Linked DNA regions of Homo sapiens. The protein of the gene in region 2 purifies or fractionates together with the protein of the main gene of each other region. This does not show direct contact. Each region holds a gene or a part of one and is shown on either strand. Other genes may lie near its edges.

Region 1 (3,500 bases), on a different chromosome or scaffold from region 2:
ATCACAAAGCTGTTTCCCTGAGAAATTTGTGTCTTCCTATCAATATGAAAAACAGCGTTCAAGTGTAAGCATATTGTTAGCAACACATTTCAACTGAAAAAATAATCTACCCAAAGCTGTCAGTTCCTACAAAAGGATAATTAATTTAATCTCAAAGATATCATGTAAGTATATATGAAATTCATTTATTACATTTAGTTGTTGAACATGAAGAATTTTATATTTGGACAAAATTTCACCCAAGGAGTCAATGTCAATATTCGGAAGCATTAAGCTTCCCTTACGTTGGAGCCCTTCATAGCTGTAACTCCAGGGTGCCAAGAAGCTGTTTCAGATAGATTTCTTTGCATTGCCTCTCCAAGTGATTTCAGTGCTCATGAAAACCATCATAGAAAAAGTAAAAGGCAATGATGAAAGTTCCTTAAAAAGAAGTTTTTCCTGCCTTCAGACAGGAGCTAAAGTCATTTCTAAAGGAACCCAGCATATTGACTGTGCATGATTCCTCACCACTTCAAAAAAAGAGAAAAATAGCAATACATACATGCTATAATACATCAAATCAAAAAGAGGAATGTGGGTTCTATGCATATTAATACTGATAAAATTCACTAGCCAATATTACAGTCTTCACACATCTTAAAAATGAGTGGTGATTAATTAATGATATTTCTGGAATTGTACATAATCAGACCTGTATTTGTTTTTGGACATCAAAATTCATAGTATTTAATGAGTCATAGATGATACTTATAGGAAGACCTAACTCTTAATCAATTATATCATTTGAGTAAATTTCCTAACAGTGTTTCTTAATTGTGTTCTGCTTTAGAATGCCTAAACATTCTGTAAACACTGCCTAATGCCATACAAGTGTCCACAATAAACAAGCAGCATTTCTCTAGGTTTCTGAAATTCATCCACAAGCAGTGGGTCCAAGTGTCCACGTCACTATTCCCTTGAAGACTCCATTTGAAGACTACATGCCTGGAGGAAGATAAAGTTAACAAGCAAGCAAATATTCCTGCTGCAGTCACTTCCCTGAGAATGAAACATTTTGCTTTTAAAAAGCAAATTAAGGTTTCAAGTACACATAATTCAGAAAGAGCTGGTGGGTCGAAACATAATTAACGGGAGCATTTGTGTTTCAAAAGTAATCTGAAAAGACTGATTCATATTCTATTCCATGCAAATATTCAGTTACGGAAATTAGGTGCATTCATAGGAATTTCATTGCACAACAAATCATTAAAAATTATACAAGAGAAAGGGAAAAAATATATAAATGCAATCAAGAAAAGATTAAGAGGTCTATGAAGTTCATGTAACAACTCCTTTGCACTAATAGACAGTTTGGAGAATCAAAACAAAATGATCATTCTTGGTCATGAGGGGAGGTGCTCCATATTTGTGTTAGAAAGGCTTCTGAAAAGTTAACTTCTCTGTTGGGATGTGACTCTATGTACAAAATGGTGCTTTTGCCAGAGCCTGACTTTCTCTTAGAGACATGGGAAAATATAGACTCAGTGATTGTGGTAGTTTAGGGAGAATTCAAATAGAGCATATTCATACTTTTAGCAAAACAATACATCTATCCACATAGAGTTGATAGGCCTGAAGCTGTTGTTAAAAAGGACAGCTTCTGCTTACTTAACTTTCACTGACTTCTAGCATAATAAATGCCCATTCCTATCACCTAAAAGAGTTACATGCAATGGCTGGGCACAGTGGCTCACGCCTCTAATCCCAGCACTTTGGGAGGCCGAGGCAGGCAGATCACCTGAGGTCAGGAGTTTGAGACCAGCCTGGCCAACATGGTGTAACCCCATCTCTACTAAAAACACAAAAATTAGCTGGGCATGGCAGCACATGCCTGTAATCCCAGTTACTCGGGAGGCTGAGGCAGGAGAATTGCTTGAACCTGGGTGGCGGAGGTTGCAGTAAGTTAAGATCTCGCCATTGCACTCAAGCCTGGGCAACAGAGTGAGACTCTGTCTTAAAAAAAAAAAAAAAAAAAAAGAGTTAGATGGAAACATTTTGCTCACTTTCTGGTCAATAAGGCCAACTATATACACTTTAAAACATCTTCAAGTAAACCATTTATCTTCCCTTACCACGGTACACCTTTTGAATACTATTCTTTCCTAAATTCTGTTTACTATATACTACCATTTGGGAAATAACTTGATTTCAAACTCTCACCCCACAATTAGAATTTGTGCCCCTCCAGGTCTGTGCTTCCTGCATGAAGAAGAAATGTGCCCCTTTCATACACTGAAAGATAAAAAGAATTATAAGTGCAGGTTCAAATTAACTTGGAACAGAAATAAAATTTTGCCTGGGTAAATCAATATCATAGCATTTTGATTTTATGAATTTCACATATGGATAGAATTAGTTTGAAAGCTGAAACTGAAATTTTCATTACTGTATTTGCATCTATTATCTTACATTACAGTGTATCTGTAATTGTTAATTTGGCTTAAAGAAAGATCCATTGACAATCTTCAAAAGCATTAGTGCATGATTAAAGGGAATTTGGATATAATTTAAGTATTAAATATGCTCATTTAAAAATAGTGTAGATTTTCATACTATACAGAAAGAAGGTTATGGTCTTTCAACCACTGTAAATACATTGAACTAAAATCGATTCAATCATACTAAAAAAATTCAGTGTAAATAAAGATGACAGAACTCCATGAAAAGTAAATAAAAAGTATAATTTCAACTTTCAGATTACTAATTATGTAGAATAAATTGCTCTTTAGGTAGCTAGAAGTGTAGACAGATTTCGCAATAAGGGTATTTCTTGACATTACACCAGAGTTTTAAGAAGCTGATTGAAGAGAAGGAGTTTAAGCCCAGTGAGAATCTAGCAGATTTTCATCATAATTCTCCCGGCATAAAGGATGATACACAGTTTGGCATTCTGATTTCACTTCCACTGAGCTGCCTCAATGAGTAAAAAAGGGATTTAACTTATTTTCATTTCAAAATCCTAAACAATTCATAAACAATTTAGGTAATTGTAATAAGGAGGGATTTAGGATGAGGAATATTGCATCTTTTTCATAGATTCTATAAACTCTTCAAAGTGCTCTAAAAATACTATAAGTTTGATTAGCAGCAAAGCATTAGTCTAATCAAAACCTCTCTCCTTCCGCCCTCATATATAAACATATACACACACTGTACAGCAATATATTCTATTAGTCTAAGTTAAATCTGACAGTTTGACAGTTACCCCCAGAGGCTGTGCAAGGTTACAAATACTGTCTACACTGTATCACAGTTCAAGACCACTAGCACCCAAGTGGTTAAGCGAGAACCAACCCATCCATTAAAAAAAAAAAAATTTAATCACGTATTTTGAATTTCTTTAAATGTAAAAATGGAGGATACAGTGAATCACCCAATATATTATTCTGAGTCCTGTAACTGTCTTTATCTAAAATATTTTTTACATATGGAAGGCTAGATGTCTTTAAATATACTTTTAG
Region 2 (2,324 bases):
GTTTCCATCCCTGGGTGCCAGGTACCCCTTCAAGTACCAAATTGTATTTTTGGCAGAAGAAAGAACAGTTTCCTTCTCAAATCCCTGGTCCACATCTCTTCAAGTTCCATAGTTTGTATCGAAGCCATTCCTAACAGCTGTATTTGTTTCTATTCTAAAACCCAAGATCCAATTCAAGACTTCAACAAACGGAGGGTTTTGGGGCAGTTGAGTCAAGGGGTATCTTGGAGGCAGGGATTCTGATAGTAACTTAGTAATGACTTCTCCCACATAGTGACAATAATCAGAAAACCTTGTGATACAGGTAAAAGTGGAATATGGCTGTGTATTAGTTACCTACTGCTGTGTAAGAAATTGCCCAAACCCTCAGCAGTGTAAGATAACATTTAGTCTCACAGTTTCTGTGAGTCAGGAATCCAAGTGTGTCTTCACCGAGCTCCCTCAGGCATGGAGTCTCTCACAAGGCTGCAATCAGGTAATGGCCAAACTGCAGTGATCACAAGGCTCAGCTCGGGGAAGACACAGCCCAAGCATGCTCACATGGGCTACAGGCAAGACTAATGTCTCTGGCCAACAGCCCTCAAGGACATCAGTTCCTTGGCACATGTTCCCCTTTACAGGGTAGCTTGCAACATGGCATCCAGCTTCCCTCAAAGGGAGCAAGAGAGAGCCCCTAAGGCAGAAACCAGTTTTTTGAGACCGAATATCGGCAGTGATAGCCTATCACTTCTGCTATACTCTATGCACTAGAAGAAGCAAGACACTACTAATGCAGCCCAAACTCAAGGGGATTGCTTAAGGCTATAATACATGAGGAGATGGAGATCACTGGGGGCTGCTTAGATGCTGCCTACCACAGGCTACATGGCTATTCTTTTACAATCTTGATTTTTAACTTACAGCAACTTGTACTGGACAGACTGGAATAGAGAAGCTCCTAAAATTGAAACGTCATCTTTAGATGGAGAAAACAGAAGAATTCTGATCAATACAGACATTGGATTGCCCAATGGCTTAACCTTTGACCCTTTCTCTAAACTGCTCTGCTGGGCAGATGCAGGTAATACTACTGATGGAATGCAAATAGATAACCTCTCATCACAGTGAATGTGAGCACTAACAGATTTTACTACAAAATGAAATCCCATCACTTAGATCTCCTTTCTTTGGTCTGTAAACTTTTAAGTACTAGTAAATTTAAGTACTAGTAAATGAGTCTTAAAATGAACTTTCTGGGGTTTGGGTGGAGGGAAGGATATATCAAGCAGTAAGTTTGTACTGCTTGCCTGACCATGAGTGCCTGGCATATTTTTAACAGTTAAAAGAATTAGCCATTGTTGAATTGACAAACTTAAGTGAAGTTATTCTTATGCGGGGAGAGGGTCACTATAACTTACCTATAAACATCTGTTATAATGCTAAGGACATTCTTTGGAAAGCATTGTAGCAGGGTAGCTTCCTTCAGTAATAACATGGGTATTAGCAACCTACATTTGTTTGCTTTTATCAGCACAACTGAAAAAATGCTGTGTGTCTAGTTCTATACTAAAGAATATGAAAAAGACTGTTCTTGAATTTGTAATCTAATAAAAGGGCCTAATGTACATAGGTCACTTTTATAACCCAGTTGTTTAAAACAAGTTACATTTCTTAAAAGGATTTGAAATTTAAATCGGCTCCATGAGAAATGTGAAACTTGGAAATTCTTGAATGGTTTAGCTATTGTAAAAATTTTTAAGACTGATTCCTTTACATTGAAATATGAGTTATGTTACCATTTTAGTCACTTTTTTCCTCCTACCTAGAAAATATTTTAAAAATACTAAGGATTTTGGTTAAAAGGTTGCCTCAGTAATTATAGACATAGCTTACAAAGGGCAAGTATTTACCCAGATGTTATAATTTATAAGCTAAGGCTTGAAATCACACAAATTATAAAAATAATTATGTTTAATGCCCTACTTTGGCAGAAACTTACCAGATTTCAGTAAATGCAATCCTGTCTTCCAAAAAAGGATTGAAAGTTTGAATCTCTACTAAAAACTGGAGACTAGTAATAGGACAGGTAATTTTACAGTTGCTAATCTATGACTGTAATGGAAGTAAAATATCCTATTTCCCCATTCTATCACTGTGTCACTATCACTATGTCACTATCATTTTTGGCAAAGCAGCTGAAGGACCTCATTTTCCCCCTTTGTTTTAAAAGGAACCAAAAAACTGGAGTGTACACTACCTGATGGAACTGGACGGCGTGTCATTCAAAACAACCTCAAGTACCCCTTCAGCATCGTAAGCTATGCAGATCACTTCTACCACACAGA

Evidence for each region. Proteins that work in one complex are often made in the same cells at the same time.
Region 1: the proteins of RTRAF (region 2) and NEK10 purify together in Homo sapiens (co-immunoprecipitation; one large-scale study listed by IntAct). This does not show direct contact.

What each region holds. Positions count from the first base shown.
Region 1 is NC_000003.12:27,107,384-27,110,883, forward strand, and holds part of NEK10 (serine/threonine-protein kinase Nek10), read right to left. Parts: 3' UTR 2,272-3,500; coding exon of another isoform or gene 2,265-2,271; 3' UTR 1-2,264. UniProt on the Homo sapiens protein: Plays a role in the cellular response to UV irradiation. Mediates G2/M cell cycle arrest, MEK autoactivation and ERK1/2-signaling pathway activation in response to UV irradiation.
Region 2 is NC_000014.9:52,006,546-52,008,869, reverse strand, and holds part of RTRAF (RNA transcription, translation and transport factor protein), read right to left. Parts: coding exon of another isoform or gene 2,210-2,324; 3' UTR 1,061-2,209; coding exon of another isoform or gene 903-1,060; 3' UTR 1-902. Other genes in the region: NID2 (nidogen-2), read left to right, coding at 903-1,060, 2,210-2,324. UniProt on the Homo sapiens protein: RNA-binding protein involved in modulation of mRNA transcription by Polymerase II. Component of the tRNA-splicing ligase complex and is required for tRNA ligation.